Homo sapiens: one gene and its partners. The protein of the gene in region 1 interacts with the protein of each later gene in a biochemical or structural test. Each region holds a gene or a part of one and is shown in the gene's direction. Other genes may lie near its edges.

What was found.
Region 2: the proteins of RASSF6 (region 1) and DEPTOR interact in a test that uses a peptide from one of them, tested with the Homo sapiens proteins (one large-scale study listed by IntAct).
Region 3: the proteins of RASSF6 (region 1) and SHANK1 interact in a test that uses a peptide from one of them, tested with the Homo sapiens proteins (one large-scale study listed by IntAct).
Region 4: the proteins of RASSF6 (region 1) and PDZD8 interact in a test that uses a peptide from one of them, tested with the Homo sapiens proteins (one large-scale study listed by IntAct).
Region 5: the proteins of RASSF6 (region 1) and MPP3 interact in a test that uses a peptide from one of them, tested with the Homo sapiens proteins (one large-scale study listed by IntAct).
Region 6: the proteins of RASSF6 (region 1) and FRMPD2 interact in a test that uses a peptide from one of them, tested with the Homo sapiens proteins (one large-scale study listed by IntAct).
Region 7: the proteins of RASSF6 (region 1) and FRMPD1 interact in a test that uses a peptide from one of them, tested with the Homo sapiens proteins (one large-scale study listed by IntAct).

Annotation. Positions count from the first base shown.
Region 1 is NC_000004.12:73,582,437-73,585,936, reverse strand, and holds part of RASSF6 (ras association domain-containing protein 6), read left to right. Parts: intron 1-572; coding exon 573-757; intron 758-1,103; coding exon of another isoform or gene 1,104-1,118; exon of another isoform or gene 1,119-3,331; intron 3,332-3,500.
Region 2 is NC_000008.11:119,929,222-119,932,721, forward strand, and holds part of DEPTOR (DEP domain-containing mTOR-interacting protein), read left to right. Parts: intron 1-593; coding exon 594-717; intron 718-3,500. UniProt on the Homo sapiens protein: Negative regulator of the mTORC1 and mTORC2 complexes: inhibits the protein kinase activity of MTOR, thereby inactivating both complexes. DEPTOR inhibits mTORC1 and mTORC2 to induce autophagy.
Region 3 is NC_000019.10:50,660,803-50,664,302, reverse strand, and holds part of SHANK1 (SH3 and multiple ankyrin repeat domains protein 1), read left to right. Parts: intron 1-1,620; coding exon 1,621-2,338; 3' UTR 2,339-3,500. UniProt on the Homo sapiens protein: Seems to be an adapter protein in the postsynaptic density (PSD) of excitatory synapses that interconnects receptors of the postsynaptic membrane including NMDA-type and metabotropic glutamate receptors via complexes with GKAP/PSD-95 and Homer, respectively, and the actin-based cytoskeleton.
Region 4 is NC_000010.11:117,291,941-117,295,440, reverse strand, and holds part of PDZD8 (PDZ domain-containing protein 8), read left to right. Parts: exon of another isoform or gene 1-1,977; intron 1,978-3,500. UniProt on the Homo sapiens protein: Molecular tethering protein that connects endoplasmic reticulum and mitochondria membranes. PDZD8-dependent endoplasmic reticulum-mitochondria membrane tethering is essential for endoplasmic reticulum-mitochondria Ca(2+) transfer.
Region 5 is NC_000017.11:43,809,147-43,812,646, reverse strand, and holds part of MPP3 (MAGUK p55 subfamily member 3), read left to right. Parts: intron 1-1,441; coding exon 1,442-1,535; intron 1,536-1,731; coding exon 1,732-1,840; intron 1,841-3,500. UniProt on the Homo sapiens protein: Participates in cell spreading through the phosphoinositide-3-kinase (PI3K) pathway by connecting CADM1 to DLG1 and the regulatory subunit of phosphoinositide-3-kinase (PI3K). Stabilizes HTR2C at the plasma membrane and prevents its desensitization.
Region 6 is NC_000010.11:48,240,197-48,243,696, reverse strand, and holds part of FRMPD2 (FERM and PDZ domain-containing protein 2), read left to right. Parts: intron 1-1,344; coding exon 1,345-1,536; intron 1,537-3,204; coding exon 3,205-3,337; intron 3,338-3,500.
Region 7 is NC_000009.12:37,741,454-37,744,953, forward strand, and holds part of FRMPD1 (FERM and PDZ domain-containing protein 1), read left to right. Parts: intron 1-2,935; coding exon 2,936-3,500. UniProt on the Homo sapiens protein: Stabilizes membrane-bound GPSM1, and thereby promotes its interaction with GNAI1.

The DNA of each region.
Region 1 (3,500 bases):
TTAATGGGTGCAGCACACCAGCATGGCACATGTATACATATGTAACTAACCTGCACATTGTGCACATTACCCTAAAACTTAAAGTATAATAATAATAAAATAAAAATAAAAATAAAAAAATAAGGATCCAGACCTGATTCTATCATTTATGAGTACTATGTCCATAGGAAAGCCACTTCAACTCACTGTACTTTTTCTTACCTGTAAGAGATCAAACCTGATAAAGTATCAGGTTTATTCCAGCTCTAACACTCTGAAATGCCACAAAATGCACTCCCCAATAAATTAAGATTAAAGGAATGCCCAAACCCCAAACATGATCATTGTGATCATTTCTTATGAAACATAAGAATGAGACATAAGAATTTTATATGAGATACTGGCAGAATTTGCTGAGTCAGTCTCAGGCAACATTTAATAAGTAAATATGCAGCTAAGCAGTGGACTATAATGCTTTTACACAGCCAGAAAATAGCAATATTCCTAAAATTAATGAAAGCATACACAAATCCACTCAGGATGCTAGGACACAGGCAGCTGAATGATATGAGCTTATAATCTATTCTTCCCAGACTATTTATCTTATCACAGCAACACCCTGAAGCCACATGCAAAGGATGAACCAGACTCCCCAGTGCTCTATAGAACCATGAGTGAAGCAGCTCTGGTGAGAAAAAGGATGAAGCCTCTGATGATGGACAGAAAAGAAAGACAGAAAAATAGAGCCTCTATTAATGGACACTTCTATAACCATGAAGTAAGTGAGTTACAATTCCATTAATGTAATATAAAATAAGGTTCCCTGTTTCACTAACAATACCACCCAATTCAATTCACAATTTAAAGTCATAATAATAACAGTAGCATGTCTAACATCTTGGGGGCACTCTCTATGTGCTAGATATTAAAGTAAATGTGTTTTAAATAGATTTTTACTGAATTATCTTATTAATCACTAAAACAATCCTATGAAATAGGTACCATTATTTTCTTTACTTGACATATAAGCTAATTGAGGCTTATGGAGATTAAGCAATTTGTCTTAGATTATGCTACTCTTAAGTAGTAACTCTCAACCTGAACCCAGCTTTGTCTGACTCCAGAACACAAGTTTTTAACCACCATGATGGGTGAACTCTATCACTGTGCCAAGTATTAAAAACATGCAGATGAGGCAGCCGATGTCTCAGCCAGCACGGAGCTCAGGGATTGAGCAGGGAAACCAACATACCAACAATAATACTGGAATAATGTAAGTGCTACAAAGTGGTTGGATCAAAGGACATTTGAACGTGAACATTTAAATAAAAGGAAAAAGCCACAGGCCAATTTATTCCAATAAATCAAACTTCTCATGTTGCCATGTTCCAGGTCTTTTACCTATACACATACCGTTTTTATATAAGTGTAGTTGTAGTTTAGATACAATTCACATTCTGCTTTTTCACTGAATATGTGTTAAATTTATATGTGCCTTTCCATAGTGCTTGTAAGACATTACATTTTGCTGAAGGTAGGAAATATATCATCATTTTTTTCCAGAACTCAAATATTTTTCATGTGATGTACTTTAGCAATCATTCATCGCTCCATCTCATAAATACTTAGCACTTACACTGTGCCAGGTATCTTCTGAGGCCTTTAATAAGAAATAGGAACTCATTGCTTTGTAGGCTTTTTCCTGTAAGGATTTCTACTTTATTTCTTCTTCTTCTACCCTTGGGGGGTAACGATAGTGTGTCTTTGGAGCCTGGTGGGGAGAAATCTCTCTTCTCAATTATTTATTCATATCAGAATTTTAGGGTTCCAGAATCATTCTCATAGCTATAAAGTAGCATTGATAGTCCCCCACAGAGAGGTACCTACCAATTGTCCTGTTTCCCTCTTCACAGAAATTGTGTTGTATGTCATTATCTTGTGGGGTAATTTGTGTTGAAGAAGGAAAGCCACATTGCTCCAAGCAAGTGGCTTTCAGATTGGATCACTTGTGCTGGAAATGAAATTGACACTAGGTTGGCAGCACGGAATGGTGGTTAAATGCTTGGGCCCTGGAGCTTGACAGCCTGGTTTTACATTCTTGCTGAGCAAGTTTCATTCTTCTTACTTTACAAGGCTGTTGATGGGATGGAATGAAATGAGGTAAGTTCAGCATAAGAATAGTACCTGGCACAAAAGAACTCGGTCTACATTAGCTTATGTTGTTGCTGTTGATTGAATGAGCTCAAGCTGGGACTATAGATATTTTACACAAATGTCATTCACTGCAATTTAATAACTAGCAGAAAACAATACAAACAAAAAAGAAAAAACAAAGCATTCTATCAACAATTATACAATGACGGACATCTAGGAATTTTAGTGGATATGTTTCTTAAGTTGCTGTGTGTCGTAAGATATGTTTTTATACTATGAAGCCCCTTGTTAATGCCAATATTGTTAGGCTATGAATAACACACATATTAAAGGCTTAGATTGTCATATCTGGAGATTAGTTATGGTGAATATAACTTGACCAGTAGTATATTTCTATCAATGTGATAGTAAATGATAGCAGGTTTCATTATATGTTTTGGCCAACACAACTGATATAAAGACTATAGATTTAAATACTGCTCTGAAAAACAAATTCACTATATGTTGACATTTTAGAAGAGCTCTTAGAGATTAGTCTTACTATCTTATTTTATAAATGAAGTCATTTATCAAATATATGTTAAGTGAGTCAATAAAGATGTTAAATGAGTTGACAAAGTTGGAGTTCGTGGGCATTTAGTGGGCACTAAAATCTAGGTCTCCTGAATGGTAATCCATGTTATTGTCATAGTGCATGAAGCTTCTTCACATAAACAACATCAAACCACGTGTACAACATATCATATTCACCTTAGCGCAGGATGAACATGTGGTTTTTCAGGGCTCCATAGAAATCGTAAATGTCACAGAATAACTTATCAATGCTCTAAAATGTCTACAAATATTGAATTTTCTCATACTTATAAAAGTTTATCCTAGACACTCTCCACACATCTTCTCAGAAAACTTATTTACATATCCACATTTTTACTCACACAAATGCCGTGTGTGTGTGTGTGCGTGTTACATGTGTGGGTGTTATAAATGTTTGTGTCTGTATACTTTGATGTTAATTTACTGATCTCTCAATATAGGACTTATCTTTTTAACAGTCCAATGAGCCACCCCAAAACCCACCCATCTCTACATCTGCTGAACCCACCCCATTTCTACAGAGCCTTGGAATACTTGGAGATTGTGCATATAAATAAAATATGTGGAAATAAATCCTTACTTAATATCTCTATCCGTTTTTAAATATGCATCTGGTGACATTCTTTCTTACTTATTTTGAAATCTTAAACTGCACTAAAGAGGGGTGTAATTGTCCAGTGAAAATGTTATAAGCATCCTCAAATGGTGTTTTACCTAATTTACTCTAGAAACAATATAAAGCTGCTTAAAAGAACACATAATATTCAAAAACA
Region 2 (3,500 bases), on another chromosome or scaffold:
TTTGCACATGCCATCGTTCTCTTGGAATACCCTTTCGCCTCATTTTTTGCCCAATTTCGATTCATTCTTCAGGTCTCCACTTACATGAAAACTCTTCAGGGAAGCTTTCTTTTTCAAAAGCTGTGTCACTGTGTTCCTGGGGCACTGGGTACTCTTCCTTTGGGCTCCCATTGCACTCTCTCCTTACCTCTGTAGCCTTATCACACCATATTTCAATTACAGTTGACATTTCTCCTTACCTCACTAGATTTCACATTCTTTGAGGCTGATGCATGCCCCAATATGCTTTAGAAGAATTTGTGGATTGCATGATGAATTGAATTGTGTGAACTTCCTAAATATGATGATGATGATGATGATGATGATGACTATGGTGATGGTGATGGTGATAATAATAGCTAAAAATACTGAGGACTTACTCTGTACCAAGTACTATGTAACTATTTTACAAGTATTAGCTCATATGGTACATATTTGCATGCATGAAGAATGTGATAGTGAAATAATTCTTAATTAGCATCATACTTCGCTTGAGTAATTAAATAAGAGCGATTTTTTTTCTCATTTGCTTCTCTGTGCATATTGTGTTTCAGTGTGTGATGAGCATAAGGAATTCAAGGATGTCAAACTCTTCTACCGCTTTAGAAAGGATGACGGCACCTTCCCATTGGATAATGAAGTGAAGGCCTTTATGAGAGGACAGAGGCTATATGAAAAGTATGTTCCGCATGAAATCCCCCCTGTAATCTTGACTTATAGAAAGAAGCAGAACTGTGCCAGTCTCATTATGTTGATTTCAGCGTGGCTTTTCTATGTGGGCTGGTTACATAACTGTTCTTTTCCATATGAGAAAACTATCAAGCATTTGCTGTCTCTTTGCCAGAAAATAAGTCAATTTCATAAGGTTCTTAATAAAGAATTTACTTAAATCTTATTTTCTGTATTTAAGTTGATTCTACAAAGCTCCAGAATTTTTGTTTACCATCAAATGATGTGGATGCCCCTTTCCTCTCTTATTTTTATTTTTTATTTTTTGGCACTGAGTCTCACTCTTGCCCAGGCTGGAGTGCAGTGGCATGATCTCGGCTCACTGCAACCTCCGTCTTCTGGGTTCAAGTGATTCTCGTGCCTCAGCCTCCTGAGTAGCTGGGACTACAGGCATGAGCCACCACACCTGGCTAATTTATGTATTTGTAGTAGAGACAGGGTTTCACCATGTTGGCCAGGCTTTTCTCAAACTCCTGACCTCAGGTGATCTACCAACTTCGGCCTCCCAAAGTGCTGTCATTGCAGGTGTGAGCCACCGTGCTTGGCCCCCTTTTTTCTTTTAAATACTGTTGTTTTGTAAATTGGAGTTTCAGGCTTGTAAGTGACTGGAGAAGCAGCATCGAGAGCAGGGGAATTGGTCAGGCCAGGAGATGAGTAGTGAGAGAACTTCAGATAGCTGGATGTCTATGAGGAACAAGTTTCAGCCCTTTCAAGAGATAAGTATAGTGTAGCACAGGAGTTTTTGGTTGGTGGGTCTCGAATCTTCTGAGTGGCCATCTCTGGGTTGATCTGCTACTTCTGTGGCCTCTTTACCATTCTGCCTTCCTCATTTAGTTTTCCAGGGCAACCATTAGAAAAAGGGGTGCAGAAGCAATGGCACGTGCTTTGTAACCCTGGCTGCCTTACAAGACTTGAGGGAATTGAAAAATACGTATTTATCGGCCAGGCACGGTGGCTTATGCCTGTAATCCTAGCACTTTGGGAGGCCGAGGTGGGTGGATCACTTGAGGTCAGGGGTTGGAAACCAGCCTGGCCAACATGGTGAAAGCCCGTCTCCACTAAAAATACAAAAATTAGCCCACCATGGTGGTGAGTGCCTGTCATCCCAGCTACTTGGTAGGCTGGGTACGAGAATCGCTTGAAACCAGGAGGCAGAGGCTGCAGTGAGCCGGGATCACGTTACTGCACTCCAACCTGGGTGACAGAGTGAGACATCATCTCAAAACTAAAAAAAAACAAAACATATTTGTCACATAAAAGAGCCTGTTGTACAGTGGTTGGGGGTAAGGGTCTGGGTGGGTGTCTGAGTGGTCAGATTAATTGGCATGATGGTTAAAAGCCAGACAGAGTTTGAAGTGTAGCCCTGTCACCTTACCTTTGTAAAGCTCAGTGTCCTCATTAGTGACATGACAGCAGCAATAGAACCTACCTCCTAGTGCTGTTGTGGGAGTTAAACGATAGCTGTGTCAAGTGCTTAAGTATTTAGCTCAGGGTCTCTGGTGTGTAGTAAGACCTCACAGATGATAGCCATTCCAAATACGAGCACAGTACTGACGGCCACCCTCGACTGTGTCCTTCCTGTGTTATGCGCTCTGTCCCAGTTCTTGTCTCCGTTTCTTGAGGTGGAATGATCACCATTTGATGTCCTAATTTGTACTCAGTCTACTATCACTTGCTTTCTATACTGAAATGGAGAAACTCTCTCATCTTTCTGACTCACATGAATTTGAATGGAAGGGATCCATCAGAACCTCCATTTGTTTACTTGAACATGTGCATTTGTTTTGTTGCTACTTTCTTTTAATTTCTTAGTTCCTTTTGTAAAATTCTAGCAGGTGTTAGGTATTTCAATTACAATGATGTTCCTTTCAAACAATGATTCTATGTTGGCCAAAACATGCATGTCATCTCCAAGGATGAAGGCCAGTGGATTCTGTAAACGCTTTTCCTTTTTTTTTAATTAAAAAAGATTATTATTATTATTATTATTATTATTATTATTATTTTATAAAGACAGGAGCTTGCTCTGTCTCCCAGGCTGGAGTGCAGTGGCATTATCATAGCTCACTGTAACCTTCAATTTCTGGGCTCAAGTGATCCTCCTGCCTCAGCCTCCCAAGTAGCTGGGAGTACAGACTTATGCTACCATGTCCAGCTATTTTTTTTTTAACTTTTTGTAGAGACAGGATCTCATTATGTTGTTCAGGCTGATATCAAACTCTGGTCCTCAAGTGATCCTCTTGCCTTGGCCTCTCAAAGCACTGGGACTACAGCCATGAGCTACTGCACCTATAACACTCTTCTCTAGCTACAGCTTATCTCTTGGGATCTGCATAACCACACTGTGGGGCAGGGATCAGCTATAATTGAAAATGTCTGGCAGAGAACTGTTATTGCTTAATGGGATAGTTATGATGGCAAGACAGTAAGAAGAGTTAAAGTTGCTCACATCTTCTAGAAAGCAGACTTACTCCAGCCTCATGTTCTGTTGGATCTCCCTTCCATCCTATGGGCCAGTCACACAGCACTGTGTATCTCTGAGCATCTTCTTTCCCTTCAGGAGATGCATTAATGCATTAATTATTCAACAAATATAGATTGAGCCCTTTCCACATGCTAGGCACAGCTAAAGACACCAGAAATGCCTGTAGCAAAGCCCCTGCCTTCATGAGCTTGCACTTCAGTTGAAGAGGCAGACATTAAAGGCACAGACACATGAAGATGTGACAGAG
Region 3 (3,500 bases), on another chromosome or scaffold:
GCTTCAGATACACAGAGGGTTGGGAGCAGGTTTTAAATATCCTTGTCCATCTACAGAGTTCACTTGAATTCTGTTTGAAGGTCTGCTATCCAAATGTGTCTGACCTTCAAATGTGGGTTCAGGGAGTGTATATTTGGGGCAACTTAAATCTATGCTCCCAGGTTGAAAAAAAAAAAAAAAGAAAGAAAAGAAAAAGGAGGCTGGGCACAGTGGCCTGCCTCTGTAGTCCCAGCTACTCAGGAGGCTGAGGTGGGTGGATCACTTGAGCCTGGAAGGTTGAGGCTGCAGTGAGCTGATATGACACCAAGGCACTGCAGCCTGGGGAACAAAGTGAGACCCTGTCTTAAAAAAAAAAAAAAAAAGAGAGAGAGAGAGAGAAAGAAAAGAAAAAGGAAGTGTATATTATTAGAGCAACTTGAATCAATGCTCCTACGCTGTAAAAATAAACAAACAAATGTGGGTTTATTAGGCCTTTAAGAACTGAATGCAATTCCTTGACTATTCTTAAGTATTCTGGTTAGAGAAGAGGATTTTTTTTTTCTTTTCTTTTTTTTTTTTTCCACTGCTTGTAGCAGCAACAGGAAGGATGCTTAATTCAGTCAACAATTGCATTAATTATTGACTCATGACCTATGTGTGCAGAGTGCCCTTCTGGGTGATGGGATCCCCTGCTGGACAGGACAGGCAAAGACTGTGCAACTCCACAGGGCTCATAGTCTAGGGACATAGGAGTGGGGGCGGGGCAGTAAACAAAATAATTGCAACCATCCTACAAAAAAAGCTACCACAATGGGATGGGTGGAGAAGGTCTCTCATGTAACAGGCAAGGTGGGCAGAGTAATGAAAGTGGAGAGGGAGCAGCTGCCCAGGGCAAGAGTGAGCCAGGCAGGGGGAGCAGCCAGTTCAAAGGCCCTGAGGTGGGACAGTGCTGGAGGGGAGGGAACGAAAGGGATGAGGGGAACCTTTTTCTCCCCTTGTTTCTTCTCTCTTTCATCTCCCTCTCTTCATCTCTCTCTCTCTGTGTCCCCTGTCCCTTCCATCTCTCTCCCCTGGATGCTCACCCTCTTTTTGTCTCTCTCTCACTGTCTCCCCATCTTTCACTCTGCTACGACTGGCCATAACCTGAAAGGCAGTATAGAATAGTGGTGAAGAGCTCAGACTTTGGTGCCATATAACCGGGCTCTGCCACTTCCTGTGTGTCCTTAGGCAAGTTATTTAACCTCTCTGTGCTGATAATAATAGTAACCTGCATCAGGGCTGTCGTGGGGATTAAACTGAGATGCAATCATGTAAAGCACTTAGAACAATGCCTGGCACACGTGAGCATCAGTAAGCGGTGACGATTATTATTATTATCACTTAATGTCTCTTTTTCTTTCATCTCTCTTAACTGTCGCCCTCTCCCTGTCCTCTCATCTTTCTCTCCCTTCATTTCTTTCCTCGACGGCCGGCCGTCTTACCCCTTGCTCCCTCCATTTCTTCCCGTCTCTCCTCCGTCTCTCCCCCTACCCTTATGTCTCTCCTCCTCTCTCCCTATATCTTGACCTCTGCCTCTTTCTCACCCCTGCCCTTGCCCCCTAAATCCCTGTCCTCCCCCACTGCCCCCTTGTCACATTCCAGACTCTCCGACGACTCCCAGTCCTCACTCCTCTCCAAGCCTGTCAGCAGCCTGTTTCAGAACTGGCCCAAACCACCTCTGCCGCCACTCCCCACCGGAACAGGGGTCTCCCCTACAGCCGCTGCGGCCCCAGGGGCCACCTCACCCTCAGCCTCCTCCTCCTCCACGTCCACCCGCCACCTCCAGGGCGTGGAGTTCGAGATGCGGCCCCCTCTGCTCCGCCGGGCCCCCAGCCCCTCGCTGCTGCCCGCCTCGGAGCACAAGGTCAGCCCTGCGCCCAGGCCCTCGTCCCTGCCCATCCTGCCTTCCGGACCCCTCTACCCAGGCCTCTTTGACATCCGTGGCTCCCCAACTGGAGGGGCAGGAGGCTCGGCTGACCCCTTCGCCCCAGTCTTTGTGCCGCCACACCCGGGGATATCCGGGGGGCTCGGGGGAGCCTTGTCAGGGGCCTCGCGCTCCCTCTCACCGACCCGCCTGCTCTCGCTGCCCCCGGACAAGCCGTTTGGCGCTAAACCTCTGGGGTTCTGGACCAAGTTCGACGTGGCTGATTGGCTGGAGTGGCTGGGTTTGGCGGAGCACCGAGCCCAGTTCCTGGACCACGAGATCGATGGCTCCCACCTGCCCGCCTTGACCAAGGAGGACTACGTCGATCTAGGTGTGACCAGGGTGGGCCACCGCATGAACATCGACCGGGCTCTCAAATTCTTCCTGGAGAGGTGATGGCTGGCCTGGACGGACCAGCCCCGTCCACAGAACTCTTGAGCCTGCTGGCCTCTTGACCTCTGACCCCTGACTGTCATTCTCTCCCCGGGCCAGGGACTCTGTTCAAACTGCGCCCTGCCCTCATCTCCCAAGGCCAGAGGTCACCAGGTGGCCCAATCCAGGCCGGACATTTGCACCTCACTGAAGGGGGGCAGCTGACACAAGAGTGTGTGTGTGTGTGTGAAGCGGGGAGCGGAGGGGGGATAGGAGAAATTACAGAGGGGAATTGAGAAGGAGGGAAGGGCCTATTCTGGGGGGAGGGGATAGACAGAGCCATAGAGGGTCAGCCCTGAGCCCGATTGGATGGGGACTGTCCCCCAGGCCGCAGGGGAAGGGGGTGCCCTCGGATTCCACCACCTGCCACCCCTCTAACAACCCTTCCCACTCTCTCCAGGCCCCTCAGCTCTCCCCCCTTCCCCTCTCCCCAGCACACACAGCTGCCCCCCTCAGCCTCTTGCACGCTCCGTTGCACGCCTGCTCACCTCTCTCCCCTCCCGTCCCCGGGCTGCAATTTTGCACAAATTTGCCCTCTCGCTGTCTTGCACATTCTGCCTTTGCTTCTGGCTGGCGAGGCCCGCTCAAATACACTCTGCTCTCCTCGCACACGCTGCATTTCCTTTCTCACGCTCCATGCCTCCTTCTCTGCTTCTTGCTGCTTACACACTTTTCCCCTACCAGGGCCCTCCTTTACACACTCCATTTCACATCTCCTCCTCCCCGCTCGCTCTGGACCCTTGTTGCAGACACACTTGGGACACATTTTCCCTCCCCCTCACAGACTCCATGCACATCATTCATTCTCTGGAGTGCCCTGCTCTTTGCTCAGCCCTTGCACACTTGCTATCTTATGCACCCCTCCTGACACACTCTTACCTCCATTTTCTTACGTTGAAGCACTTTCCCTTCTTATTCTTAAAAACCCCAGATTCTTCCACTCCCCAACTCTCCCCTCTCACCATGACACTCCTAGCCCCCCACCCCCCGCCTTCCCTCTTGCCCCTTTTGCACCGTCACTTTTGGTCACGCCTTTTGCACACTTGCCTCCCAGAAACTGTTTCTCTCACACATGCTCATTCTCTTCTTCTTTGCCAGGCTCCCACTCCCTTGCCCCTTTCTGTTT
Region 4 (3,500 bases), on another chromosome or scaffold:
TTAAAAGAATGTATTTTGCCATTGTTGAGTATAATGTTCTATAAGTGTCAGTTAAATCAAGGTTGATGATGTTGAGGTTGCCTGTGCCTCCACTTCTTTTTTCTAGTTATATTGGTTGCTGAGAGGATGAAGAAACCAAGTTTTACCTCTAACAGCAGCTTTAGTAAAGTTACATTGCAAAGAGACATGCTTATAAGAATAGGAGGAATTTGTTACCATGTTTTATGGTCTACCACTGAGTTCATTTTCAGTCTTTTTTGGGTTTTGTTGGTGGTGGTGGGTTTTTTTTGTTTTTGAGGCAGGGTCTAGCTCTGTTGCCCAGGCTGGACTGTAGTGGTGCAGTCATGGCTCAATGCAACCTCCACCTTCCCAGCTCAAGTGATCAAATCAGGATAACTAGCATAGCCATCACCGCAAACATTTCTTTGTGGTGAAAATATTAAAAATAATCTCTTCCAGCTATTTTGGAATATACAATACATTATTAACTATAGTTACCCTATTGTGCAATAGAACATCAGAACTTATACCTCCTAACTGTAACTTTTTATAGCCACTTCTGATCTCCCCACTCCCCCTATTCTCCCCAGCCTCTGGTAACCACTCTTCTACGTCTATTTCTATGAGATCAAGTTTTTTAGATTCCACATATGAGTGAGATCATACAGTATTTGTCCTTCTCTGCCTGGCTTATTTCACTTAACATAATGTCCTCTGGGTTCATCCATGTTGTCATAAATGACTTTTCTCTGGGGTTTTGTTTTTTGTGGCTGAATAGTATTCCACTGTGTTTGTATACCGCACATTTTTTATCCATTTATCCATTGATGGACTCTTAGGTTGATTCCATAGCTTGGCTCTTGTGAATAGTACTGCAGTAATCAAGGAAGTGCAAGTATATCTTCATCATACCAATTTCATTTTCTTTGACTATATACCCAATAGTGGGATTATTGGATCATTGCTAGTTCTATTTTTAAATTTTTGAGGAACCACTGTACTGTTTTTCATAATAGCTGTAACTAATCTACTTTCCCACTAACAGTGTATAGGAGTTCCTCTTCTTCCACATCCTTGTCAATATTTGTTTTTTTGTTTTTTTTTTTTTTTTTTGTCTTTTTGGTAATAGCCATTTATTTGGTAATATGTGTCTTCTCTCTTGTTTCTTGATCAGTTTAGCCTATAGGCTTACCAGTTTTATTGGTCATTTTATTGAGTCAGCTTTTATTGATTTCTCTATTATTTAAGTATCTGTTCCATTGGTTTCTGTTCTTTATTATTTCTTTGCTTCTACTTTGGGGTTTAATTTCTTAAAATGGGGACTTAGGTCACTAATTTTAGATTTTCCCCCCTATATAAGCATTTAAAACTATAAATTTCCTCTAAAACACTACTTTAGTTGCATCCCACAAATTCTGATTGGTTGCATTTTCATCATTTCATTTGAAATATTTTTGGATTTCTCTTGTGATTTTTCTTTAACTCATGAATTATTTAGAAGTGTGTTGTTTTGCTCTCCAGATATTTGGGGTTTTCCTAGTTACTAATTTGTAATTTAATTCCACTATGGTCAGAAAACATGCTTTGTAAGAGTTCTGTCTTTTTAAAATTACTGATATTTGTTTCATGACCTTCTACATCCTGGTGAACTTACCATGTACACTTGAAAAGAATGTATTTTGCCATTGTTGAGTATAATGTTCTATAAGTGTCAGTTAAATCAAGGTTGATGATGTTGAGGTTGCCTGTGCCTCCACTTATTTTTTTCTAGTTATATTGGTTGCTGAGAGAGGGATGAAGAAACCAAGTTATACCTCTAGCAGCAGCTTTAGTAAAGTTACATTGCAAAGAGATATGCTTATAAGGATAGGAGGAATTTGTTACCATGTTTTATGGTCTACCACTGAGTTGATTTTACTGTTCTCTGTACTTTTGTATATATTGGAAATTTTCTGTAATAAAATCTTAAAAGCCAAACCCTCTCAGGTGATATTATATTCCAGGGAATGCATGTTGAAGCCACAGCATGCTTCACCATGTACAGGAAAAATATTTAGGGTTTCTATTTATGTTTGTTTTTTACATTGTCATTTTAAAAGTTCTATTTTGGCATATGTTTTATAGTGCCAGGCATATCCAATAGTCATAAATAATTTTAAGATATAGATGCATACATATGGGAGAGAATTATATATTATATATCATTGTACTATTCTGGTTTTAAAATAGTAGTTTTACCCTAGTGGAAAATCAGTTTTGTTCCAAAAGTTGTGTATCATTGCATGGTCTTGAACCTTATCTTAAATTTTATATTAAAATAACAATGTTTTTGTGAAATACTCATTTTAAAATGCTTTGTTTCACCAGGCTTTTAATTAAGAGGTGTTTTTATATTCTGAAACTTCTGAATCATGTCAGAACTTAATTAAGGTGATGATTTTCATTTCAGGGAATGCTGAAATTAAAATCTAAAATTAGGTCAGTGGGGTGCAGGCTTAAAAGGAAACAAAAACCAGCTTGTAAAAGAAACAGTGTCTTATGTTCTGTTCCCTGTACATACTTGAAATTAAGAGTATTTACTAATAATCAGTAAAAATTGGGGAGAAAGTGAGGTAATGTAATATTGGCCCTAATTATTGCTACTGAAAACCTTATCTTTTTTTTTTTTTGCATCTGGAATGTTTACTTCAGGTATCATTTGAATTAAGAAAAGCAAAGGGAAAGATATGATTTATAGATAGAAAATAAATTAAGAAACTAAATTACACTAACACCTTACACTAGCCTCTATTCACTTCCTAATCCTACCCCCTGAATCTCCATTCTACTTTTAAAAGCAGAGTAAATAACAAAAAAAAAAAACACATTCCAAATGCAGGTGTTAATTTTTAAACTTTACAGTACTCAGACTTACACTGTTTAGGTTTTCTACCCATTTGCTATCATTAGCTTCCTGCAATTAGAAAAACTTACATTCTAAATTTCAGCTTTGGCAATCTGTATATTAAGAATATATTTATGTTCCTGGATTTGAGAGAATATGTTGTTAAGGGTTTTGTTAAAAGCCTTAATTGTGTACAGCACTTTACATTGTAAGGTGATTAATTGCTGTGTCATAAGGCAGGGATTGGACAAATGTCTTAGGAGATTTAAACACAAATTACGTGTTTTGGCGGGGCTTTGTGTTTTGTAAACCTTTAGGTAATTCAGAATTTGACCACATATCCCATTTCTTGAGCACAGTATGATTAAGATTTTCCTTAAAATAACTTTACAAAATTTGTTAACACCCAAATTAAAGAGCAACTTCCAGTGAGGGTTCTTTTACCAGCGAATATCATTAGGTAGGAAAATTGAATTTCTGTCCAAGTGGGATTTATATATTAAAGCAGTGCAGCCAGTGATATATTTGGATATTAGGGTATTTGGCAAAGTCCCTCATGAGATATCCTTGAAGAATAGGACTTAAGAAATGTGGACTGGAGAATAATACAATTAGA
Region 5 (3,500 bases), on another chromosome or scaffold:
GGAAGCCTTCCCAGAGGCAGTGACTTTTATGCTGGGTTCTGAAGAGTAAATAGGAGTTTTCCAGGCAGAAGAGAAAGGAATAGTTCTCTTTACAGAGGAAACAACATGTGCAAAGGGACGGAGCAGTGTTGGGGACCGGGGAGATTAGTGTGGATGGTGTGCTGGAAAATGGAGCTGAGAGGTTGGGCAGATCACGCAGGTCTCAGATACTCAGCTAGGGTGTTTAGAATGTAACCCATAGATAAATACAAGTTTTTAAGCAGGGGGATGACATGGTTGGAAAAGTGACCCTAGCACCTCTACCGGAGGTTGGACTAAGATGCCACAGAAAGAACACAGGGCATACCCTGGGTGGTTCCCATGGGCCAGAAGACACAGTGCCTCAAGATCCCATTTTATCTTTTGGAAAATACTGTGTGTGTGGCTTTGTGTGTGCCCTTGTTCTGCAGAAGACCTGATTTTCCTCAGAAGTGTGCATCCCAATTCTGTTATGGAAATCAATGAGAAAACACCATGTGTTTCAACATTTTTGTTTGAGAGCCAGCCTTGCTGAAACACATCCGATCTATATAGGGACGGTCTGTCTTCCTGTCTCCTTTTTCTGGAGATGAGAACTAATTGACTAAAGAATTAAAAGCATACATCAGGGTCAAGTGTATGTGTGGCTCCTTTGCTCTCAAAAAATAAAAAACAATGAAGAATTAAAAGTTAGGACTAGGGGTCCCTTAAGTGATTCTTTAAAAGCCACAGCATATGCTGGGCGCGGTGGCTCATGTCTGTAATCCCAGCACTTTGGGAGGCTGAGGCGGGTGGATCACCTGAGGTCGGGAGTTCGAGACCAGCCTGACCAACATGGAGAAACCCCATCTCTACTAAAAATACAAAATTAGCCGGGTGTGGTGGTACATGCCTGTAATTCCAGCTACTCGGGAGGCTGAGGCAGGAGAATCGCTTGAACCGAGAAGGCAGAGGTTGCAGTGAGCCGAAATCATGCCATTGCGCTGTAGCCTGGGGAACGAGCAAAACTCCGTCTCAAAACAAAAAACAAAACAAAACAAACAAAAAAAAAACACAGCATCAGGGAGTCAGTTAGCAGAGTGGTTAAGGGTATAAGCTGGGCATTTGGCAGAGAGACCGATTCTGGCTGTGCTCTCTACTGGTTGTGGGTCACTGTGCACAGTGCTGAACCTCTCCGTGCCTCAGTTTTCTCAGCTGCAAAAGGAAAAGCCTCCTTTTGCCTACATCAAAGAGTTGTTGTGTGAATCAGTGATACGCCTGCCTGGAAAGGCACAGTGCCTGATACAGGGACATGCAATGAGGTGGAAGTGCCTGGTTTAGACACAGCAGCAGTGAACTCCCAAATGAGTGCCTAAGCCTGCTGCTGTCCCTGCGTGCTGTGATGTGACATCTCTTTGCCCAGCTTTCCTTCTTTCTTTAAAAGATACCACCAGGCCCCGAAAGAGCCATGAGAAGGAAGGAGTGGAATATCACTTTGTGTCTAAGCAAGCATTTGAGGCCGACTTACATCACAACAAGTACGTTGCTTGATGGGCCAGTTGGCCCTCCAGGCAGTTGTGTGTTTTTGTATCTGTATTCCACTAGAGCTCCTGGGAGGACTCCCGGAAAGGATGGGGGAAGCGGGAGAGAAGTCATGTTGGGAGGTCCCCTTTGCTTTGCTAATTTAGGAAAGCTGAGGAACTAAAGGCCTTTTCCCCTTTGGTGGTGTTTTAGGTTCCTGGAACATGGTGAATATAAGGAAAATCTGTATGGAACCAGCCTGGAGGCCATTCAGGCTGTTATGGCCAAAAACAAAGTTTGTTTGGTGGATGTGGAGCCAGAAGTGAGTTGCTGGGCCTGCTGGCCATTTCTGGTTAACGGAATTTATAACTAGGGGATTGTACATTTTACACAACACTTAACCTCAGTCTAAGGAATTTTTAGTCTAGAACACTGGCTGTTCAATTTCTTTGGGTCTTCCTTTGAGAATCAAATGAAAGCCTTGTACCCCAAAACATGCCCCTCTATCCACAAATGCTGCATTAATTGTAGGGAGCTTGTGGACACTCTGGTGGCCCACAGACCCAGGCTAGTAACTCCTGCGTGGAACAGATCATGCAATAGTTGGTGGCGCTGACTGGCCATTGCAATGTGCCAGAGAATTAGATGTCAGTACCCAGGTGAAACTGGGGCTGAGCTCTCGGTGCCAGGCCTCCCCCTCCCCAACCAGGGCAGGTGGAGTCAGTGGCTTAGAGAACCACTCAGGGAGGCAGTGAGGAGAGCAGTTTAAAGGGGAAAAAGAGGGAGGGAGACACGGCCCTGGGAAGTGCTTCAAAAACATTTCCACTCCTGCACACCCAGCATGCTGTGGACTCAGCAGGGGCTTAACCATCTTTTTAACCTTGTCTTTTAGAAAAACTTCCAAGCTTTGAACTCAATCTGGGGATTTTTTTTCCCCTCTATAGAAACAGATCTCTGATTTTATGCTATAAACTGTAGGCTTTATTTTAAAGAAGTTTGCTTGAAATATATTCCAAAAAGCACGTTATGCCTATAAAGGAAAACACTCATTTGGACTTACAGGGAGTTAGTGATCAAAATTAAAAGTCTGAGTTTCAAAATTTTCTTTGAAAAGTGATTTTATTGATCACTTTATTGATCAAGGGTGCAGATAATGCATATAGCAGTTTAATACTAGTGTTTCCAAGTGGAGCCCTTACTTCTAGATAAAATGCATTAATCAAGAGTACAATTTCTTTTTCTTTTTTTTTGAGACAGATTCTTGCTCTGTCACCCAGGCTGGAGTGCAGTGGTGCGATCTTGGTTCACCGCAAGCTCCGCCTCCCGGGTTCACGCCATTCTCTTGCCTCAGCCTCCCGAGTAGCTGGGACTACAGGTGCCCGCCACCACGCCTGGCTAATTTTTTGTATTTTTAGTAGAGACGGGGTTTCACCATGTTAGCCAGGATGGTCTTGATCTCCTGACCTCGTGATCCACCCGGCTCGGCCTCCCAAAGTGCTGGGATTACAGGTGTGAGCCACCGCACCTGGCCCAAGAGTGCAGTTTCTACAGTCTACAGTTTTAAATGATCTGTTCAGTAATCTCATTTGCTTTGCAAACCTTTTCTTCTTTGAATACCAAGAGGAGATGTAATAGCACAAAGTTTGTAATAATGTAGTCCGATTGATGACATTTGACTAAATAGATACACACTGACTCCTGCTTCCTCACCCATCAGAAATGGAAGGTGGAGAGGAGCCTGAGAAGGTTAATTATAGCCGGAGGAGTCAGAGCTAAGAGAGACAGCAACTGTCTCTGAGCTGAGGCTTAGGAACCTTCTGTTGGCAGTGAGTGTGACTTCAGGGCCCCGCTGAGTTCAACGTCAAAGTGAAGGATGAGAAAAGGAGCAGTTGGTCTGCCCAGTTGAAGTCCATTGTCATGGGACCCATGTAACCAGGACCTTTGCTGTTGAGGTTATGGTATTGAAGCACACGATTATTGAG
Region 6 (3,500 bases), on another chromosome or scaffold:
TAACGCCTCACTGGCCGTGGGGTTGCCTTCTGACTTCTCAGTGAGACACACCTGGAGCCTAGGATAGGGTCCCTGCTCCCGTCTGGTTCCCCTTTGGCACTCTGCCATAATCAGGACCGGCTTCCTGGGTGTGTGTCCTGAGTGTGTGACCCTGTGTCATAGCACAGGGTCCTGCACTTAGTTTAATGCTCTGCTATCACTGTCCTGGAATTCTTAATAATTTTGAACAAGGGACCCCACATTGCTATTTTCCCCCAGGCCCCTGTCCTGCTCATAATCCCCTTCCCTTCAGATGCATGTCAGCTCATCTGCATCTTCGTGCCTTTGTACACACGGATCCCTTCACCAGCACCTCACTCCCCACTTTCCTCTTGGTTAACTCTAGCCTTGGCTAAGCCCCTTCCTCTACATTAGTGCCATGGCCTGTGCTTCCCAAGGTGAAAGTCCTTGTCATCCTCTATGGTCTTTGTCTCTTTTAGTGACCGTCTCTCTCATCACACCATTATTTTCCTGAAGGCAGGGACTGTATCTGGTGTGGCTGTGCAGCACCAGGCACAAAAGACGCCTGGATTTACTGTGACGGCAGGACTCAGCAGCTTGGCTGTACACAGAGATAGGTGCTCACAGCTGATGCTCCCCAGCAAGAAGCGGTAGTGCAGCCTTTATCTGGAAAGTGACCTGCAGTGTGTGTTGAGCTTGAGAAAAAGTCTGATTTTGAATCTGAATTTGAGGACTTTCTCCTATGAATTGTGGTCATTTAAATGCATGAGGGAAATGCTTATAAGATGCTTCTGTTTTCTTTTGCTCGATGTGTACACGTGACATAAAGTTCAACCAACAACGATTGAGCATTTGTGCTGACTGCTGGCTGTTCCGAAGTGAACAGGAATAGGCCACAGTCTGTATGTTCCAGGAGCTCACATTCCAGGGGAAAGGCCAAGTGAGACCCCCTGAGTGATTGGATACAATGACAAGCTACGCAGGTGAACTTGAGTGAAAGGCTGACCTCTGGTTTGATTTGGGGTGCTTGGCACAGGTGGAAATCCATCTTGTCAAAGCATCTAGTTTTCATGAGCATTCCAAGCATGTGCTTGGGCAGAAGGATGTTCTGGTTTAGAAAGCAGCAGACAACACAGAATTGCTGCAGAGATGATTGCTCCGCACTTTGCGGCCTCAGTGATGGATCTTGTGTCTGTCCTTAAACTCTCCAGAAGGGGCAGGCATCTGCTCTGGTGCTTGTGGGAACACCCGTTTCCATGTCTCCAAGGCCTGCCTGACAAGGTGCTGGCCTCGTAGTGGCAGCTCTGGCTGCTCTCTCCTCTCACCGGCCCTGTCTGCCTCCAGCCCCTGCAGCTCTGCGAGCCCCTGCACTCCATCCTGCTGACCATGTGTGAAGACCAGCCTCACAGGCGGTGCACGTTGCAGTCGGTTCTGGAAGCTTGTCGGGTTCATGAGAAAGAAGTGTCTGTCTACCCAGCCCCTGCTGGTCTCCACATCAGAAGGCTGGTTGGCTTGGTTCTGGGTACCATTTCTGAGGTCAGTAGAGAACCGTGCTTTTCAAGCAGTAGCTGCTGGTCATGTGTGGCTATTAAAATTTGAATTAGTTATATTATCATTAACTAAAATAAAATAAAAAATTAAATTAATCAGTCACATCTGTCACATTTCAAGTGCTCCGTTGCCACTCGTAGCAGGTGATGACCCTATTGAACAGGGTGGATCTAGAACATTCTTGTCATTGCAGTTCTATTGGGCAGTGCTAACAAAGACCTTTAGGCAAGCCCCAGTTTGTCACATGGCTAAGACCCTTGACATCTTTGCAAGTGCGTCCTTACATAAAGCAATAATGTTTAGAACCCATGATTCAGTTTTCTTATCAAAATTCAACTCTAGGTTCTGCACAGAAGCCTTCCCCGACTTCGTTTTTGTGGTCCCTGGGTACCCTCCCCTCTGCTATTTTATACCTGTGGGGTGTCCTTTGTTGTGCTTGTCACACTGTGCTGCTTGCTGCCCTGTGCACTCCACAGAGTGCAGCAAGGGGCCTGGCACATGGGAGGCATTTGGCTTAGGTTGGATTCCCTCCAAGCTAACCCAGAGACAGGGATTCTTGTGCAAGTTATTTACTGGGGAAATGTTCCTGGGAGAGGGGAGTGATGGTAGTACAGCTGACAAGTTGAAGGATATAGTCTCAGCTGGAGACAGGCCCAGCCTGGCCCCCTGGGGAGCTCTGTTGCAGGAATGGCACCATGGAGTTGGTCCCCCATGAGACCTGAGTGGAGCTGGGATAGGATGGGCAAGTGAGGTGCCTATGGCACAAAATGTAAGGAAGTTTGTATTTGGGAGGAACCAGAGACAGGTAAGCTAGAGGCCAGTTGAGTGGCTGCACTTGTCCAGGGACAAGTTGGAGAGCTGAGAGCAGGATTAATGAGGGCCAAAGTGGATGGAGATGTGGGGACAGCAGGGTGGACAGCGGCAACAGTCAATCAGAGAAGGCCTCTGCCATCAGAGAAGGCCTCCTTCTTGGACCCCTTCTCTCTTGGCATAGGAACATGTGGCTCCTATGAATTGAGCCAGAGGATTTGGTGGGGGAAATGGACTATATTTATTTGAAAGATACTGAGGTCTACCATCCACTGGTGTGCCATTGTCCTTGGATAGACAGTGTACTGACCTGCAACATTTCCGTCAGGGATCTGCAAGGTAGATGTCAGTCACGTATTCAACATTCATTGGGCACTGCATTAGGTGTGCTACGGTGGTGCATAAAGCACACAGAGATGTTGGGGGAGACAGACAAGCAGCACACTCATGGAACATGATGCAACAGAGCCAGGTGTGAGTGCAGTGATAAGGGAAGGTGATCAGACGGCAGAGGTAGAGAGGCTTAGAAGTAGAAAGCACACAGCTCTGGGTCTTGTGGGCACAGAGGAGCTTCTGGGGAGGCTGTAGCCATGGAGGGAATGCATGAGCAAAGGCACAGATGTGTGTGAGTGTGCAGGTCTGGAGTGGGGAGTGAAGTGCCTTCAGGGTGCATGCAGGGGGTGGGCACAGAGCACATTCTGGGTGCCAGAGAACACATCTTTAGGTCACCGTATAGGGCAGACAATTCCACATTGATTCAGTCTGACAGCCAGTTTGCATGTATCTATAAAAACGCCCCCTCCTTATCTTGGGATGTGGATGTGTGATGCACTTGACCCCCAGGTGGAGAAAAGAGTTGTGGAGGAAAGCTCCTCTGTGCAGCAGAACAGAAGCTACCTGCTCAGGAAGAGGCTGCGTGGGACAAGCAGCGAGAGCCCAGCGGCACAGGCCCCGGAGTGTCTGCATCCTTGCAGAGGTGGGTACGTGCCCTAAGCAGTCCCTGCGTGGGCTGATGGTACCCATTCTATTTTTTCCTGCCCTGTATGGGCTACACATCCACATTGTGATGGCAGAGAAAGCCTATGTAAGTGCCACTCTTTCAGGAAGCCCCTGAAGAGAAGGGGCTGAGCTTAGGACTC
Region 7 (3,500 bases), on another chromosome or scaffold:
CACACACACACACACACACACACACACACACACACACACTGCATTCTGAAGGAAACATATTGGAAAAGAGCACATGGATGTTGAAGGTGACCTGCCAGGAGCTGGGAGAGCTGCAGCCCTTGTTCCTGTCTCGGCACTTTCCTGCTGCTCTCTGATCCTCTATTCCCAGACCTCCTGTGCTCTCCCACTGTTCTGGAGAGAAAGGCCAGCTCCTCTGGGAGCCCCATCAGGCCCTTTGAGGCCCTCTGTGACATGGCCTCTGCCTGTCTCTCTCCCTCCTCCTGCATTCCTGCCATACAGACCTCCTTGCCACTTTCTACAAGTGCCTGTTTTTTCCCCCTCCTCCAGCCTTTGCACATGCTGCTCTTTCTGACCGAAACACTCCTCCCCAGATCGTGGCTGATGGTGCCCATCCGTCTATCAGATTCCGGTTGGAATTCACTTCCTCAGAGAACATTTCCCAGGCTTCCCAGGCCAGGGCAAGTCTCCCCATCTCTGTCACATGTTCTTGCATTACCTGGGGCTCTCCCTGTCTGGCACCTCGCACAGCCTGTAAATTACATATTTACTTGTATGATTCTGTGTTGATGTTTCTCTCCATCACTAGACCGAGAACTCCTTTGAGCGTTAGAACTGTGTGTTTCTCACTGTGTCCCCAGCACACAGCGTCTAGCAATTGTTGTTAAATGAATGAATGAAGTCTCCACCATCTACACTGAGTTCAATTGACTGTACCTCTAAGGAAAGGAGAAACCATGGCCAGACTCCTTACTGCTCCCCAAAGTACCCAGACAACCACTTTCCATGCCCCAGCCTTGCCCTGCAGGGCCAGCCATTGTGCCGGGGGGCAGGATGGAAGTGTGGCAGAAACCATCAGTCAGGGCCCTTTTATGGGAGTCTAGTCAGGAACATATGGGGTTCATACCAGACACTGTTTTGTTTTTGTTTTTGTTTTTTATAGGGAGCCAGTGTAGTGCTGAGAAAAGAGCCAGAACTAGGATTCCTCAGCCTGGGTTCTGATTTGGCCCCTGACTGACTATTGGAGCCTCTTTGTCTTTGGGACTTAGAAACTCCTTGGTCGGTGGCTGTCAGTAGCCTAGGGCAGTCAAATGTGACTGGGCATCAGAATCACCTGAGGGACCTTGTTTAAAAACTATAGATTTGGCCGGGCGCAGTGGTTCACACTTGTAATCCCAGCACTTTGGGAGGCAGAAGCAGGCAGATCACCTGAGGTTGGGAGTTTGAGACTAGCCTGGCCAACATGGCAAAACCCCATCTTTACTAAAAGTACAAAAATTAGCCAGGCATGGTGGCGTGCACCTGTAATCCCAGCTACCCAGGAGGCTGAGGTAGGAGAATCACTGGAACCTGGGAGGCAGAGGCTGCAGTGAGCCGAGATTGCACCACTGAACTCTAGCCTGGCCAACAGAGCAAGATTCTGTCTCAAAAAACAAAAAACAAAAAAACCTAAACCTTATAGATCCCTAGGCCCTAGCCTCAGAGATTCTGACTCCTCAGAGATTGTGGGGAGCAGCCTAGGACTTGATAAGGTTTCTAATAGCATACAGCCAGGTTAGAAATGACTGGTCTGACTACCCAAGCTCTCTGATTCTCAAGTGCTAGGCTCTGATCCTAATTCCTTCTGGCTGATTCCCAAGGGTTCTTTACAATAGTGCCTCTCCTCCCAGAAAGATCCATCCTGGGATGCACAAAACTCGATGCCTGTGACAGAGTTGTGGCCCCTTTACATTCAGACATGAAATGGCAATAACGAGCAGCTTCCTTTTAGTGAATACCTAATGAGGCAGAGGCCTTGTGCTGGGTGCTTTATAAAAATGCACTAATTCCTTTAACCTGCACGGCAGCACTGAATGGCACCATTGGCACTAAAAGACTTGGGTTAACATCAGCACAAAGAAAAAGTGTTAGGAAGTAAGATTGTTTATAGAATTGCTGGCAAGCCTGAAGACCTGGGTTCAGAAATAGACAGCAACCAGGCTAAGAGTCTAGTCACAGGATTCCCTACCTGTATTATCAAGCTATTGTGGTTGGAAAGAATGGCTCTGCTTTTTTTTTTTTTTTTTTTTTTTTTTTTTTTTTTTTTTTAATGTCTTTGGGTTTGGAATTCTGGAGAATTTGTAGCTGATTGGCTGGCGTGGACAGAGCATCTTCGTGAACAGTTCCAGCAGACTCTAACCATTGGGGAGATGTCATTCCCTAAACAGAAGTTGAGATGCTGTGACCAAAAGATAATTAAATGGATCTTAGGCATCCAAAAATTTAATAATGTCTATCACAGCTGGGTGCAGTGGCTCAATCCTATAATCCAAGCACCTTGGGAGGCTGAGGTGGGAGGATTGCTTGAACTCAGGAGTTCAAGGCTGCTGTGAGCCGTCACACCACTGCACTATAGCCTGGGGGACAGAGTGAGACCCTGTCTCAAAAAAAAAGAAAAAAAAAAGTCGGCCAGGCGCGGTGGCTCATGCCTGTAATCCCAGGCCTAGGTAGGCGGATCATTTGAGGTCAGGAGTTCGAGACCACCCTGACCAATATGGTGAAACCCCATCTCTACTAAAAATACAAAAATTAGCTGGGCATGGTGGCAGATGCCTGTAATCTCAGCTACTCCGGGGGGATGAGGCAGGAGAATTGCTTGAACCTGGGAGGCAGAGGTTGCAGTGAGCCGAGATCACGCCACTGCACTCCAGCCTGGGTGACAGAAAGAGACTCCGTCTCAAAAAAATAAAAAAAAATCTGTCACAATTATTATCCCCATCTTTCAGATGAGGAAGTTGAGGAGATCAGGATTGAACTTGCTCAAGGTTACACAGCCTAGCCAGAATTTAAACCCAGGAAAGCCCAAGGCCTGAGCCCAAGCTCTATTAACCTCTTTTTTTTGTGCTTTTTAATGTATTTTTTCTTTCCTGACTCCCAGGGCCCAGAGATGTTTCTACTGCAGAACCCAGTGCCACAAGCTTGCAGAATAAGGCCAGCACTTCTAGCCCTGAGAACAGCCTGCCTTGTGGGCCAGATGGAAGACAGCCAAGCAGGAGGGGAGGGGTGAAGAAATATGCCAAGACCCTGAGGAAAAGAAGGTCTTTCCTACAGACCGACTACACCTCTCAGGTCTCATTTCCCCTGGTGCCATCAGCCTCCCTGGAGAGTGTAGACGACGTGTGCTACTATGACAGGGAGCCCTACCTGGCCCTTGGTGCACCCTCCCCAACTGTGTCCTCTCTGCAGGACATGCAGGGTGAGCCTGGCCTTCTGGAGACCAAGGCCTTGGGGCTGCTGGCTCCTCTGAGGGAGACCAAGAGCACAAACCCAGCCTCCAGGGTCATGGAGATGGAGCCCGAGACCATGGAAACCAAATCAGTCATCGACTCTCGAGTGTCTTCTATTTCTGCCATTCGCTTCCGGATTGACCCCAACAATAAAGAGAATTCTGGTGTTGTCCCTGCTGCCAGCTCCTCAGCAAGCACTCCTCACTGTTCTAACCC